Regions from separate parts of the Homo sapiens genome. Here region 2 is linked to region 1. A link means that fine-mapping ties the variant in region 1 to the expression of a gene that starts in the linked region. Tissue or cell type: regulatory T cells. Region 1 holds a variant in brackets; the other region holds the start of a gene. All regions are shown on one strand. Distances are between the middles of the regions.

Region 1 (8,103 bases):
GCCATTGTCACCACTCTGCCACGCACCCATGTGAGGAAGAGGGCCGGGAATGCTAACCAGACATCTGCTGGGTGGACGGGGCGGAGGGAAATGGTGCTGTCCTCCAGCAGCACCCCAAAGCCAGGCCCTCGCCTCTTGCTGCCCCAACGACGTCCCACGTGCCCTCTGCCCCTTTGTTCCTGGAAACGCATCCTCAGCTTGAGCATGGTGGCTCAGCAGCCCCGCTGGTTCCACTGCAGGTGGGCTAGGAAGATGGCACTTTGCAGGGCATGGTGTAAGTCCCAGGGCCTCAGCACAGTGTAGGTGTGCAGCTGGGTGTGTGGCTGCATTGTTGATAATTGTCCATGGTAAGTCTAGGGAGGGAGAGACCTCACTTAAGCCTCACCTGGGTAAGTCAAGATCACGCATCTGAAGGGCAAGGATGCACCGTGGAGAGATCAGCGGTGGCCTCCCACACACACACGAGATTGCAAGCTTCCAGGCCCTCAAAAATCAGCACTGGTGAGCTATACAATTGTGGATGTGATCAGCTGATGAGTGGTGGCGGGGGGCGGGGGGGGGGGGGGTCAGGGCCAGAGCCCTTCTGTGTGGAAGCTGAGATGTGGGGAGCCGTCATCTGAGCTAAGAGCCCTCACTAGCCCCAGCCTGACCACATGGTGAGACCCAGGGCAGTGTGACTGGGCACCAGCACAGACTTCAGTGACCACCATCAGCCTCACCTGACCAGCCCAGAAGGCTTGGGTACATATCTGAACTCAGAGCTTTGAAATCAGAACCAGCTACCCAGATACTGGGGATGAAGCTGCCAGGCCCCAAAACCAGTGGAAAAGTCTGTCCTGCACTGGACCCCTGGGGCCCTTCCTGCTGCCCAATGGAGACCGAGGAACAGCGGGGTCCTTGGCCTCCCTACCTCCTCCTAAGGAGGATCTGCCAGATGAGCCAGCCAAGGGATGCAGCCGCACATTTGGCCATCCGGTTGGACTGATACGGGCTGCAGGATAAAGCAAGCCCTTTCTGGTTCATAAGGTTCCCGGACCTCCCGTTAGAAGGCGGGGCCTGGCTGGAGCTGGCATCCATCGTGGATCCCCAGGGGGCCAGGAACAGCCTCCTGCTCAGCCCCTGATGAGCTCCAGCTGCAGATGCCTCACCCGGTCCTCTCGGAGGCGGCATTGTCGGCCTTTGACAGTCTCGGTATCTGAGGTCCTTTACCTGAATCCCCACTGGGTTCCTAGCTGCCCTGGAATCCTTGGCAACTCAAGTTCTGGGACCTGGTTCTCTGCTTCTCCAACTCAAGGTGGCTTCTCTAGTGGCTGTCTTTGTCAAGAGTGGTCATTGTTCCCTTTTGACACCTCAGGGACCCAGGCTGCAGAAGTCCCCCTGTATCTCCCACAGCCCAGTTCTGTGTATGCACAGGCACCCGGGCCCCTTCTTAATGAACCAAGTTTGTGGAAGGCACTTGCTCTGCAGATATTGGAGGGATGGATGGATGGGTGGATGGACCCTGCTGGATGGATGGATGGATGGATGGATGGATGGACGGACGGACGGATGGACGGACGGACGGGCCCTGCAGGGCAAGGTTCCTTGCTGCCAGTCCAGATGTGCTATTGGAAAGTGGGTGTGAAGGACCAGATAGAAGGACCTTTTGGGTTGACTTCGGAAGGCTTCCCAGGGACGCCTCTGCTGGGCACCTGGAGACCCTCCCTTCACATTCTCTTGACTGTGCCTGCCGTGTGGGCCCTGCAGTCCCTCTGACTCCAACCCTGGTTGACACCATCGTAGAAGTGGGGAATGGGGCTTGGGGGATCAGCTTCTGATGAACCCCTAGGGTTTGAGTATCCATTGGAGCAAATTAAAAACAGGCTTTTAGAGCACCTTTTAGTTGTCCCAGAGAGGATTCCTGAGGCCATTTCTTGCCTATCCCACTGTTTTCTGGGCATGTGACCACCCAGTCCCCCCCACCCCCCAATCCCCTTGGACCCTGCTGCTGGGCAGCCGTCGAACAGAGTCCATCCCCATCCTGGCCACCAGGTGGCAGTCGTTACAAGGCCCAGGTGCTTGCCCTGGGCCCGCGGCTGCCACAAGACCTGCAGCTCTGGTGTAGGGGCAAGTCAAGGCCCCCGGCGATGGTGGGGAAGGCTGGAGGGTTTGACAGCGAGCATTGTGTAAGAGATCCGACGTTTCCTCGAGGCAGGCGGCCGGACAGGCGGGTCAGAGATCAGGCAACTGGACAGGCCTCAGCAGAGCGGGTTGTGGAGATGGCTGGGAAGAGGGGGCTGAGTGTGGGCAGGTGAGGCTGATGGCTGTGGGCAGGCAGGGCGGGCACGGCTGTGAGAATGAGGGCAAAGGCCTTGTCTAGAGAACAGGAGGTTTCTTCTGTTCTCCGCTGCATCCCCCAAGGCTTGGGAGGTACCCGGTAGGAACTCAATGTTCCTTGTGTGGAAGAGAATCCCAGGATGGCATCAGCAGCGGATGACTTCCAAGAATCATGACTCCCATAACTAACCGCGCCCCCACTCCCCGACAAGCCCCCTGAGCAGCTGCTGGGGGTCCTTGTGTGCCACAAAAGTACCCACCCCCAGTTCCAGACACCTGCTCCTTCCCTCTACGGATGCCCTCCACCCGCTCCCCGCTGAGGATGATACGTCACGCCCCACGCACCCGAGTGGATTCTGCAGACACACTCTGAGCAGGTGCAGGGAGGGCCAGGACCTCCCGACTGCGGGGGGGCCAGGCAATTGTCAGTTCTTGCATATTCCAGGGAAATCATCCCTGTTCCCCCAGAAACCTGTAGCCCAGCCTGGTGAGTGTAGGAATGCCACCTTACCGGGTCCCGGTTCCCGGTTCTCCAGGGAATGCCACCTTACCCTGTCCCGGTTCCCCAGGGAATGGTCCAGGGTTAGCCCAACAGCCTAGGGAGGAAGAAACACAAAACCCAGGGAGGCGATGACCTCTAGGGCAATTCCTTTGATGACGTTCAGTTTCCATGCTAAGTGCTGTGGGCAGTGCTCGATGGCTGTTAGGTGTGTTTCGTTTCTGAGTGGCATCAAGGAATGGGAGCCACTTTCCAAGTTTGCTGACAGGAAAGTCAGGAGTGGCTTCAGATCTTGGTGATGTGGTTTTTGTTTTGAGTGGCCTGAGAAGCATGAGTCTCACAGAGCGCTGATCGATAAAGCAAGAGGCCTTCTCCCGCTGTCCCCTCGCCTCTGAATAGGATGAGAAGCTCCCTCCAAGCTGAGCTCCCTGGGGAGCGAGCCCTGGGGAGCGAGAAGGCCTCCCTGCAGCAGCACAGTGTTCAGGAGACAGACGGGCAGGAAGCTGCCCGCCCTCAGGGGCTTGGCCGGCTCACAGCGCTCCTAAGGCACTCAGCGGCATGAGGCTGGACTCAGACTCCCCGGGCTCAAACTCCACCCTGTTGTGACGTGGGCCAGGTACTGGGTGTGCTTGCCTCAGGATCCAGATCTGTCAAATGGGGGAATGATACCTCTTTCCCAGCAAGGTCGGAGAATGGATTAAGATTCATTCACACGTGGCCTCGTGTGTAGTGAGGACTTCACAAACAGCAAGCAGCGGTGACTACCCTCATCATCACAGCTTGATTCTTTTTTTTTTTTTTTTTTTGAGACAGAGTCTCGCTCTGTCACCCAGGCTGGAGTGCAGTGGTGCAATCTCAGCCCACTGCAACCTCTGCCGCCCAGGTTCAAGCGATTCTCCTGCCTCAGCCTCCCAAGTAGCTGGGACTACAGGCGCCCACCACCATGCCCAGCTAATTTTTTGTATTTTTAGTAGAGACAGGGTTTCACCGTGTTAGCCAGGATGGTCTCAATCTCCTGGCCTCGTGATCCACCCGCCTCGGCCTCCCAAAGTGCTGGGATTACAGGCGTGAGCCACTGCGCCCGGCCCACAGCTTGATTTTTAAGTAGAGAGAAATCCTCTCTGAGATGTGAAAGTCAAACGAATGTGGCTCTCAGTGA[G/A]TCCTAGGCCTCGTGGTTTGGAGCTGGTGGCTGCTCCCACTGCCATCTGCTAGGAATAGACCTGGAAGTCAAGGGCAGCTTTTCGGACCCGGCCAGAGGGCAGTACTCCCACAGTTCGGGAGGCAGGGCAGGTTCTCAGAAAAGAGAGGCTGACAGGGACGATTCCCACGTGTAGAAGCAATCTGTGTTTTGTTAGAAAGTTCTAGGAAGAGGGCCTAAGATTTGACAAGCCAAGAGTAAGCGGGAAGCCCCTTATTCTTCATTTTGACCAGTTCTGGGCAAAGACAGCCCAGACCAGAGGACAGCCACCCAACACCACATTTTCTAGGAAGTCTGAAGCTCTTCCAAACAACATAAATGTGGGGAGGGTAAGTCTGCAGTTCCAGGAAAAGCATGGGACTAACAGGGCCTGAGTCTACAGAGGCTCAAAGGAGCGGTGTGACTTTGAAAAGCCACTAAACCTCTCTGTGCTTCAGCTACATGTGTATCAGGGACCGTGAGACCCGCTTCACTGAGCTCATGACCATGAAGGGTAAAGCAGCATCACATGAAAGCACAGGGAAAGAATCACTGGCTCCAAGCAGGGTGGACTGCACGGAGGAAGTGGCATTTCAGACAGGTCTACATGGATGAATCAGATATTGATGGGCAGAGAAGAGGTGGACTTGGCCTGCAGGAAGATCCTAAACACAGGAACCGATTGTGGCCCACAAAGGTTCTGTGGCTGTAGTACAGGGGGCTGGCAACGTGGCGGGTGGCTGGCTCGGGAAGATGGGCTGGGCTCTGTTTGGTGGAAGGAATTTCTACCTGATTCCTTAGGGTCTGGGGAGCCAGGGTAGGTGTCATGGAAGACTAGAAGAGGGGATGGGCTCAGGCCCGTGTTTACAGCCCCCCAGCTTCAGGGTGGAAGATGGATGTGAGGGTAGACAGGAGGCCAGGAGTCCAGCAGGGGCGCAGAGAGGAGTGGTGGGGCTCCAGGAGGCAGCAGGCAGTGACACTGAGGAAGGCTATGGCCCATGGGGGAGGCCGGGGCTCAGGTGGGAAAATCATAACCAAGGTGGGGAGGCCGTGGTTGGGAGGGAGGCTGTGGCCCAGGTGGGGAGGTAGCCTTTCTGACTGGCCCTAAGTGGTCACAGCAAGATGATAAGACACTGTCATGAACGCCAGACTCCCCAAGGCTGGCAACAGGCCCCAGAACCCCTGTTGTTTGTTGTGGATTTGTGGTCAGGGATGTCTTATATGTCCCCAGAACACAGGGCCCATGCAGTGAGGGAACTGGGGGCTGCACAATCCCAGACCAGGCCCAGCTTGGCGACAACAGGGACCCGGCCGTGACCCCTCATGGCCATTAATCACCATGCGTGGAGGAGCCCTCCCAGGCCTCTGAGAAGGGGCCTTGGTGAGCTTCCAGCGTCAGGTGACGAAGATGGTCAGAGGCCAGATGGCGAGGGACTGCCACACTCACGAGAGCTTTGCCAGATCCACAAAGGGGCACTGGGAGGCAGTGGGCACAGCCCGGGCAGACCCAGGCCCAGCGACGCCTGCACGCAGCAGGCACATGGTGTCCATCTGTGGAATGAACCCTTGGCGGATGGAGGGGGAAGAATGACCCGAACCTCGCCCTCCAGCCCCTAGTCCCTGCCTGTGGAGTCAAAAGGCAGGATGGGCGCTGGCCAGCCACATCAGCTCCAAACTCTTTGAGATTTCAACTTTTGGGGCATTTTACAATCTGAGCATCTTGGTGCCTATGCTCCCTCGAGCCTGTCAAGCAAGTGCTCACTTCAGAGATCACTCCCTGGCTTCATCAGGACACTGCTCAAACGGCACCTCACTACTGAGGCCACCCAGACACGCTGCTGTCGCCCTGTCCTCCTTCCCTGCGCTTGCGCTGCACGGAACCTCAGTGAGCCATGTGTCTCCCTTCCTCTCACATCAGTTCCAGCAGGGCAGAGTGGACACTTACAGCTGGATTCCCAGGCCAACCACTGTCTGCCACACCCAGGCACTCGCTGGATATCTGGAGGGTGGATGAGTGGATAAGAGGATGGGTGGAAGGATGGATGGATGGAGAAATGGATATTTGGATGGGTAGATGGGTGGACATGTGGATGGATGGATATATGGATGAGTGGATATTCGGATAGGTGGATATTTGGATGAGTAGATGGATGGTTATGTGGATGGGTAGATGGGTGGATGTGTGGATGGATGGTTTTGTGGATGAGTGGATATTCAGATGGGTAAATATTTGGATGAGTGGATGGATGGTTATGTGGATGGACGGATGGGTGGATATGTGGATGGATGGATATATGGAGAAGTGGATATTTGGATGTGGATGGATGGATGGATGGATGGATGGATGGATGGATGGATGGATATATGGAGAAGTGGATATTTAGATGGGTGGATGGGTGGATATGTGGATGGATGGATATATAGATGAGTAGATATTCAGATGGGTGGATATTTGGATGAGTGGACGGATGGTTATGTGGACGGATGAATGGGTGGGTATGTAGATGGATGGATATATAGATGAGTGGATATTTGGATGGGAGGATATTTGGATGAGTGGATGGATGGTTATGTGGATGGGTGGATATGCGGATGGGTAGATGAATGAATGGATGAGAGAATAAATGGATGAATGGACAAGTGAATGAATATGAGGCCTTCTGATCCAAAAGACCTGTATACTGTGACTCTACCCTGGGATGCAATGTACAGAATGTATGGTCCAGTTAGACCAGGCTCACTCTACCTCAGCACAATTGACAGCTGGGTCTTGCTAGCTCCTTGCTGTTGGGGCGGTCCTGTGTGCCGTGGGAGGTTTACAGCATCCCCGAGTTGTGACAACCAAAGCTATCTCCAGACTTTGCCAGATGTCTTCCTGGGGGTGGGGGTGGGGTGGCAAAATTGCCCCTGGTTGAGAACCATTGAATTACACCTTTACTTTCAAAAAAAGATTCTTACAAACCTCCCCTGCCCGAGTCCTCAGGAGGGTAACTCAATCCCATGGGGACCTCTCAGCCACCAGAGAGCAATGCCTAGAAACCATAGGCTTTGCCGCTGTCATTTATTATTTTATCACATATTTACATTCCAGTAGGCAGCCAGTCCCCCTGTCCAACAAGGCCCTTTGGTCCTCACTGGTCGGCCTGCTCCAGACCCCCAGGTGCAGGCGCGTGTCCGGAGTCGAGGCTCCGCGATGTCAGACGTTCAGCAGGAGGGGCCGGTGCTCCTCGTCTGCAGCGTCGCTGGGAGGAATTTCATAAATGACAAACAGGGAGGAGTACAGGCAGCCCAGGAAGGACACGAGGCTGGAGAAGTACATCACCCCGTTGGCACTGCCCACGGCCGAGGTCAGGGGCCCCAGGACCAGGGAGACCAGAATCTGAGCCAGGAAGTACTGGCAGCTCAGCAGAGAGATGTCCACGCCCATGCCCCGCCGGGTGCCGTCCGCACTGGACCCTGCAAACTGACCCAGAGGAAGAAACGTGTCAGCGAGACACGCCGCGGCCAGCACGGGGTGACCGAGCTCGGTGTGTCCTGCGAGCCCAGGAGGCCCGAGCGGCCCACACACAGCGGCCTCACATTTTTCAGCGCCAACATGCACAGGGAGTTCAGCCAAGAGTTTAACAATATTTGTGTTCGGAGAGATGACGACAATGAAAAGAATCCATGACTAATGGGGCAGAGGGCTGAGCTCCCACGGGCCGAGGTGGCGGGAGACACTTTCCCCGCTCAGCACTTGAGCTCTTCCCCATCCTCTCACCCAAAGAAAACCAATCTGCCCAGCCAGGCGACCGCTCCACTCCTGCCATCCCCTCCTTCACCTTCATCCAGGATGGGACCTGCCCTACACCCCCAAAGTCCTCTGCACATGACAGCCGCTGGTCCTCTGTCCGAGGCTCCAAGGTCCTCGTGGCCTCCAGCTTGGGCACGTCACTCACTCTCCCTCCCCTGCATGCCATGCTGGGGGACAGTGGCTGAGAGTGTGGTCTGTGCAGAGTGACGGTGGGGAGCGGTGGCATGGCTTTCCCTCACTGGGCTCCCCCAGCACCAGCCGGCCTGCAAGGTGCTGCGTGAGTGGGCATTGCTGTGACCTGGGAGCCTGGGCCTCCCC
Region 2 (8,103 bases), 78 kb before region 1:
TAAAAGATGGGAATAGCAGTAGCCTCTGCCTCATAAGGTTGTTGTGATGATTAAATGAGCTAGTGCATTAGAGCCTTTAAGACAGTGGCTGGCACGTTATAGCGCTCAGTGTTCACCATTTTTATTGTTCTAGGGTGGTGTTTCCCTGCCTTTCTCATACCATGACGCATGTAAAAATCAATGCCGTTTGTACTCATCAGTAGGTTAATGGTGATGCTACTTGCACCAGGTCCACGTGCCATCCCAAAGGTGGAGAGGTGAGGACCAGTATCTAGGCAGACCAGTGAGGCTGAGGCACAAGGCTTGGGGGACTATGACAGGGGGTGGGCTCAAGCAATAGCATGAGGAACTTTTGAACACATTAATTTAATGCATTTTGACGTGGTTATTTTTATTTTTATGTTATTGTTATTTTTATTCCAATATAGCTGTTTCTAAAGTGGCTAGGTCTAAACAGCCATGTCAGAATTTCCTTTTTGGAACATAGGAGCAGACTAGATCACATGGCTTCCAAGTCTGAACCTTGCGTTCTTTCCACTGTAGCGAAAATGCAAAACAGAGCTTTCCAGGTTCTATTAAAACCCAAGGCTAGTAATGCTGGGTTCAGGTAACTTACTTTTTTAAAGCCAGAAGTTAAATTTTCTCTACTAGGGACTTGTAGGTAGGTAACTTTTGATGGTGATACGAAATTCAGCTCAATAGTGGAAAACTATAGCAGTTTATCTAAAAATTAGAGCACAAAATCATAAACGTAAGTTGTAACACAAAGCAACAATCTCCTTGCCATAAATATTTATTTATATTTGGATCTCACCTGGCTATGGGGGTACACAAACAGAAAAGGACTTGTTTTATGTTTCCAAGGAGCAGCACCTAGTTGGGTTGGTTGGGCATGAACACACCAGAGAAACAAGTGCCAACATCTCAAGACGCTCAGTTCGTGCGTCTGAGAGTGGGCAGGCTATGAGCTGGGGAGCATAAACAGCAGAGCTGCCCAGCGCTGGCAGCAGTGGCCAAGTCAGTGACTTGCCTTCTATATTTCCTTCCTCCTTTACCCTTGGCATCCTGCTATTCTAATATCTATACACTGGGAGTGATAGAAAAACTAATGGACACAGAAATAATTCATGAGACCTTGAATTTCAGCACTGGAAATGCCGAATTTCAGCTCAACAACTAGAAGACTCTTAAGAAACAGACTGTCTCCATGAACTTGCATTTAGAGGCTTATAGGGCCTGTTGATTTATAAGTCAATAGTGTTAATTGTTAAAGTCTTAAAAACTTCGGGGTCTTCATTTGAAGAGCGATGAATTTATAGAGGGAAAGGAGACAGCCGCAACAGAAGTCTCTTTCACGTGTGACCCCTTCCAATCATTGACTACTGTGAGTGGTCGTCTTTGTTTCGATTTTCAGGGCTACTCTACATTTCTGGTAAACCACAAGCTAAAGGCTGGTCTCTGAGAAGCAGATGTTTTGCTGGTTTTGAGGCCTTGTGGCTTTCCATAGAGAAGTAACAGTACAGGCCACATGAAGCTTTTACTTCCTTTTTTTTTTTTTTTTTTTTTTAAAGTGGGGCCAAGGGTGCTTTTGCTCTTGATAGCATTATATTGACATACATTGACAGCTGTGGTAGGTCTGTGTTCACCACCAGATGTCAAATTCCTATTTCTGGAAGTAATTAGTTTGAGATACCTGTGAAACGTTCAAGTTGAGTGTTCCCAGTGGACTTGGACCATAGATTTAGTCTTAGAAATACCAGTGACAATCTCGAAAGATATTTAGAGCCAAGGGAACAGTGGAGATCATATGGGGAGAGGATATATATAGCAGAAAGCCCTAGGACAAAGCTTTGGGGAGACTCCAGCATTTAGAGGTTGAGTAGAGAATTAGGCCAAGTGGTATGAGCAAAACTAGGAGAGTTTGGCATCATGGAGCAAGAGGTCAGCTCTGTTAGGAGAGTTCAAAATGGACCTTCTGGCTTTCAACAGTCCATTTCCACTGTGACCACCCTAGCCCAGGCCCTCAGCATCTCATGGTTGGTTTCACTTGTCCGGGTGCGGTGACTCACACCTGTAATCTCAACACTTTGGGAGGTCAAAGCGGGAGGATTGCTTGAGGCCAGGAGTTTGAGACCAGCCTGGGCAATATAGTGAGACCTCATCGTTAATAAATAAATAATTTTTAAAGGAGACAAAAAATGTGGTGAGCATCAACTGCCTAGTGTTATATGGAGGCACTAGGTGTAAGATGTAATTATTTTAAGAGTTTATGGACTTTTTGGGTAAGCAGGCCTTATACAAATAAATAAACTAATGAGAGAGTAACTGGACATCTGGTTTCATTTGGGAGTAGGAGAGATTTTGAGGTGAACGTGGAGATGCCTTACCCAGATTCTGGAGTTGAGACAGAGGTCCCCCAGTGTGGGCCAGTTGGCATTACTGGACATCTGGCTGGAAAGGTGGGCAGGGCCAGGATCCTGGAGGGCCTTGAATTCAGGGCTAAGGAGTGTAAACACTGTCCTGCAGAGACCACCATGCTGTTCTTAGGTAGGGGCTAAGGGCCAGATAAAGTGGGACTCAGGATGAAATCTATAGTTGGGAAAAATTCCTTGGCAGAGGCTTTTAAATGGCTGGATGGGGGAGATGGTTAATAGCCTAGTTATTAGGAAAGAGAGATAAAGGTCTGGCCTGGGACTGCCACTAGCATGAGCAGGAAAGGAGGGCGTTGAAAGACACTTTTTTTTTTTTTTTTTTTGAGACAGAGTCTCTGTCGCCCAGGCTGGAGTGCAGTGGCGCAATTTCGGCTCACTGCAAGCTGCGCCTCCCGGGTTGACGCCATTCTCCTGCCTCAGCCTCCCCAGTAGCTGGGACTACAGGCGCCCACCACCATGCCCAGCTAATTTTTTGTATTTTTAGTAGAGACGGGGTTTCACTGTGTTAGCCAGGATGGTCTCGATCTCCTGGCCTTGTGGTCTGCCCGCCTCAGCCTCCCAAAGTGCTAGGATTACAGGCATGAGCCACCGCGCCCGGCTGAAAGACACTTCTTAGGAAGAATACTGAGGACTTTATGATTTGACATTGGACCCGAGAAGAGGAAAGTACAGACTCATAGAAAATGGTAACAGAAAATAGTTACCACTGTAGACGCCTGCCTGCATTTTACAGAGTGTGGCTCTGAGGATTTGAGGGGGCTTAAGTTTGAATTCTGGCTTTGTCTCTGAGGAGTTGATCTAGTTACCTATCTGTGCCTCAGCTTCCTTGTCTGTAAAATGGGGATAATAATTGTACTTCTTCTTAGGTTGTAAAGATTTCGAATTAATATATATGAGGCTCCTGGCATATAGTAGGTACTTAGTAACTATTGGTTGAATGGATGATGTTCAAAGGATTGCATCACAATAAATGGAAGAAACAGGATCTGAATTTGTTTGTCCAACTCTGCCACCTTACCCTGATGTTCCAGAGTCAGCCTTTCTCACATGCTGCCTTTATTGTGTAGGCCTCTTTTACTGGACCTGTTAGATGTCACTTGGTATCAAGCCCACGTTCCGATTGCATGGTCCTGGCGTTCCACAGCCTGGCTCACTCCAGATTGCCCGCCCCAAGTCTGTGTAGACTGTCCCCTGTAACCCACCTCCCATTCTCCACCTCTGACCTTCACGGAGGGCCCGGTCACCAAGCCACCTCCCACCCCTGCAATAGTTGCCCACCCCTTGTGATCTCGCTGATGTCACTGCCTTGGCGAAGGCATTCTGAACTACTACAGACCACTGCAGTCTAGCCTTCTTGGGTCCCTTGCTGCACTGATGAGCTGCACCTCACTTCTTTATGCTTGGCCAGATGACATCTCAGAATGTTCTGTAATGACTTCACACATACTTATCTTACGTGCAAAAATGAATCACAGTTCAGTAAAGGTCCATGGCAACCTTTATTATCTTCCTAGACCCCTCTCAGCTAGGTGCTCAGTAAATACCTGAATACTTGAAGAATGGATTAAGCGGCAGGAATTCTGATTACTGAGGTGGAGTGTGCCAGTAGTTGAGGTCCTCATCTCATACCTGAACTGTGTCAGCAGCCTCTTTAACTGGTCTGTCCCTAATCTACACTTAGGCCACACTGCCACTGGCACAGTCCTCATCCAGTCTTTTCATGGAAAGCTCCAGCTTCAGCCTTTCTGCCAGCCTACAATTAGGAACTCTTCCGTGCGGCCTGAAGGGCTCTCTGCAACCGGATCCTTGCCTGCCTCTTTCGTCTTATCTGCTGGCACTCCATTCTGCACACCCTGTCCTCCTTGCAGTTCCCAGAATGTTCCCTGTGCCTTTTCCTGGCTGACTTCTGCTGGAAGCCCTGCTGGAGCCCACCTGGCAGGCTCACACTCTTCCTTGTCACTTCCTCTAAGACATCAGCAAGCAGAGTAAGTTGCTTCCTCTTCCTAGCTTCACCCACCACCCTTTGTTCCTCTGCTGCTTTTCTTGCAGGCCCTAGGACTGGTTTGTTTACCTGTCTGCCTTCCTGGGCAGACTGCAGCTCCTTGAGGGCAGGGCCATCTTTCCGTGCCGTCTCTCCCGGTGATATGCTGTGTGCACACAGCGTAGGATGCCTGTTGATCATATAAACGATACTTTTGTCAAGTAACAAAGGTCACTCCTCACACTAGAGGAGAGCTTGCTGCTTTCTTGTGCCTTGAGAGATTTTCCCTTCGAACTGTATGAATTATATTGAAAATTGACAATGATGAGTCATATCTCAGCAAGGGTGAAATTCAAAAACGCAAAGCCTCCACTACTGGAGTAGGAGGTTGCAGACTGGTCTTAAAAGGCTAAGTCTGGCCCTTCACTGAATCCGCCTGGCGGGTCTCAAACACAGGGAGTGGGAGGGACCCTCTGCCCGGTGGGCAGGTGATTTATTGGCTGGGAAGCTTCCGCGGTGATTTAGTTGTGAAGCGGCGGCCGGGGAAGTGCAGGCTAATGCCTGGGCCGCCAGGGAGAGGCCGCCCACAATCGCGGGCCGGAAGGGACCGCGGGGGGCGTCGGGGCCAGCCCCCCGTTTCGCAGCTGAGGCGGGGTTGGGGCGGAGGGCGTGCGGCCGGGGCGCAGCCGACTTCGTCCATCCGGAACGTGGGCTGGAGACCCAGCAGCCTGGGAAGGGCCCCAGCCCTGTGGGCGCCCTCTCCCCACGCTTGCTGCGGTAGGGAGGAAGTTTCTGTGCTTTACCGCCTTGATGTTCTCCTGTCCGGAAGGAGGACACAGATTCCAGCGCCGGGTGCCCTGGAGGCTCCGGCCTCGGGGTGGGGGTCGGGCCGGGGGCGGGGCCGGGGCCGGGGCGCGGGGCCCCGGCTGGCGGACAGGAGGGCGGCGGCAATCCAGGCCGCCTTTTGCAGCCGCCCGCGGCCGCGCCGGGCTCTGCGCGCCGCGCTCCTGCCTCCTCCCCCGTCAGCGGCGGCCCCAGCCCCGCGCCCCCCGGGCCCCGCGCCGCGCGGCCCCGCCGCGGTCACACGCCGAGCCACCCGCGGCCGCCTCCGCCCTGCGCTTTGTGGAGCCGGAGCCCAGTGACAGGCGACGGCCTCTTGCCGCCCCGGACCCCGGGCGCTTACCTGTGGCTGCTGGGGTCGGCCGCCCGGGACCAGGCTGGGAGCCCCGAGGTGGGGGCTCGGAGCCAGGAGCTGCCCCCACCGGGGCGGGGAGGGGTGCTCGGGAGGCATGGGACAAAGTGAAAGTCTCCGGGCTGGGGTTAGGGACGAGTCTGCTGCGAAAATGGATGGGGGCGGCGAGTGGCGTCGGGAGGGCGGAAGGGGTGCTGGTTATTCTCTGGTGTCTCGGAGTGGCTTTTAATGACGGACGGTGGGGCAGGCCCGCTGGCTTTCGTGTTCCCGGTGGGCTTCTGTGATACTGGTGCCTTCCGGTGCCTCCTGGCAAATTCTTTGGATTAAGGAAAGCGGCCTTTTAACCCCCTAGGGTTCCCTTCTGGAGAAGAGTCACCGGGTTTGGTTCTGTTTCCCCTTTCTGCTCGACACTTCTGGGAAGCTTGGTTCTCAGGTGGGAAAGCAGTTGTGTTTTATTAAAACATGGAGCATATTTATACCTTCGTGCACCAGAATGTGTGCCTGGTGGAAGAGGGGGACAGATTGCTTCTTAGCCTCAGACGCAGGACGTCCTTCTCTTAAACGCGCTGCCCTGCGTGGTGGGTGGGATTGGGGTTCTGATGAAGGTAGCTGGGGCCTGCCCTGGCCAGTGGGTCCCAGCTGAGCTGCTGACATACTCTCCGAGCCTCGGCAGTATTCCCTAGCCGAGACTTTTTTTGTGGTTGTTATTCTGCTGATTGTAGATATCTTTGCTTTGCTGACATCCTGTTTTGTTTTTGGTTTTTACATCCCATTTGTTTCTTTTTATCACAGAAACGCTTCGTTAAGGGACTCAGGCAGTACGGGAAGAACTTCTTCAGAATTAGAAAGGAGCTGCTTCCCAATAAGGAAACAGTGAGTACAATTGGACTTTATGTAACTTGATTTTTTCCTCTTTGCTCCTGCTGCCTCTCCACATTTGATCTTATGAAATGGTTTCCTTTAACCCTGCGCTGTGCTCAGACTCGGGCTGGCCTCCAGAATTCTCTCCGTTTTACTCCCTTGACTTTTAATTTGAGTTCATAATTTTTAGATAGTAAAGTGACAGATTATGCTTATCCGCCTGGAGAACATAGACTTCTGTTGTAACTCTGAGAACAGAAAGGTCTTTGGGAACAGAGGGTTAGTTGTGGGGGAAGGATTGTTGGAGAGTTAACATCAAATTTTAAACATAGTGGCTGGAATAGGAAATAGCATTTTATCACTAGTTTGAATTTGGTAATTGGCAGAAATCATCAACCAAACCAGAGGTTTGTGGCTTATTATACTTTGAGTTCTGGGGGATTTTTTCCATTTTTCAATGTTGCTCTGTTTTGAAGAGGAGTTTTAACTCTTTAATATTCTATCCCTGAGAGTTTGCACTTTCCACTGGACAGATGTACAAGGGGATCTTATAAATTGCTTAAATGGAGCTTTACAAAAAACTACTTAGTATTTCACAAAGCTGGGGGTCAGAGCTGACAAATGTGCCCGATAAACGTGAGGTAGAAGGATTTGCTGAGGAAAATACAGAGTGAAATTATATGAAGAGAATGCGGGGAAGGGATTCATTCTCATTTCCCTGTGGTTGCCTCCCTCCTCATCTCCTTCCCTGGTGGTGTAGAGGCAGATGGGGAGAGAGTCTTCCCTCTGGCTAGGCCACGGGATAGGGCAGATGGGATGGAGTTGGAGCAGCCACTCCACTGTCTGAAGGCGAAGGGAGGACTCATTAACCAGAAACACTCTTCAGGACTTTGGGAGGAGTGATCCATGTTTAATCTGCCTAGACATTGAGCTGCTTTTTTAGGGAGTGGAGGTGGGAGATGGATGCAAGAATATCTACTATAAAAGTATGCGGATAATTTGGGTTTTTTGGCTTAATTTTTTAATTGGATGTTGTTTACTGATTTCCTCTTGTTTAATTCTGTCTTTTTAAAAATGAGCTGTTTTTCTGGACACTTACTGTATAGTACCTCAAGGACAGTGATAACTCATGGGGAAGAAGGGTTTTGTGATTTCAAGTATAGTCTTGTATATATAAATGGATGATTTGCATCAGTCAATGACAATTAAATTTAAGTATTACGCATCTCATATGCTAGGATGGATCATATTGAGAATGGTAAAAAACAGAGAGAGAGAAACCTGTTTATGAACATTAAACTAAGATGTATTATGATGCCAATCTATATAATCAACTTATTTCTTACCCTTCCCAGAACAGGGTAGAGTTATTTAATATGGAATATTGAGATACATATTTTAAGTTTTCTGGGGATTTCAGTGACTTGAAGTTTGATATGATTAAAAATTAAAATGCCTTTGCCCGAGTGTAGGAAGTTTGGTTTGGCTGAGTAAAAAAGAGATCAGTGAGTAGATTTCTCCTGATCGCTCAGATTGTAGCCTCTCAAGTTCTCTGTCTCTGCTCTGCTAAAAGTTGCAAACCATGAAGAATTTGATACAGAACTATCTTGACAATTATTTTATCTTTCAGTTTTAAA

Which allele goes with the higher level. Alleles are on the strand shown, and positions count from the first base shown. SD is a standard deviation of normalised expression in the study named.
In carriers of allele A in region 1, the expression in regulatory T cells of the gene that starts at base 4,560 in region 2 tends to be higher than with G alone (large effect, 1.0 SD a copy in Schmiedel 2018).

What was found. PIP is the estimated chance that this variant, and not a neighbour inherited with it, causes the effect.
Region 2: it holds the start of RERE-AS1, and the variant in region 1 is fine-mapped to the expression of RERE-AS1 in regulatory T cells (Schmiedel 2018, PIP 0.95).

Annotation. Positions count from the first base shown.
Region 1 is chr1:8,343,099-8,351,201 of GRCh38, reverse strand. It overlaps SLC45A1 (solute carrier family 45 member 1), which reads right to left. Exons shown (of 9, transcript NM_001080397.3): 9 at 7,037-7,455. The coding sequence ends at 7,189. Among named protein-coding and RNA genes, the nearest start is that of SLC45A1, 29 kb to the right of the region's middle. RefSeq lists enhancers at 519-1,339, 7,586-8,103. The variant G/A (reference allele first, on the strand shown) is at 3,975.
Region 2 is chr1:8,421,102-8,429,204 of GRCh38, reverse strand. RERE-AS1 (RERE antisense RNA 1) reads right to left here and starts at 4,560. Exons shown (of 4, transcript NR_125999.1): 1 at 4,504-4,560; 2 at 617-723. It overlaps RERE (arginine-glutamic acid dipeptide repeats), which reads left to right. Exons shown (of 23, transcript NM_001042681.2): 12 at 6,398-6,478. RefSeq lists an enhancer at 1,203-1,442 and silencers at 4,971-5,110, 5,421-5,760.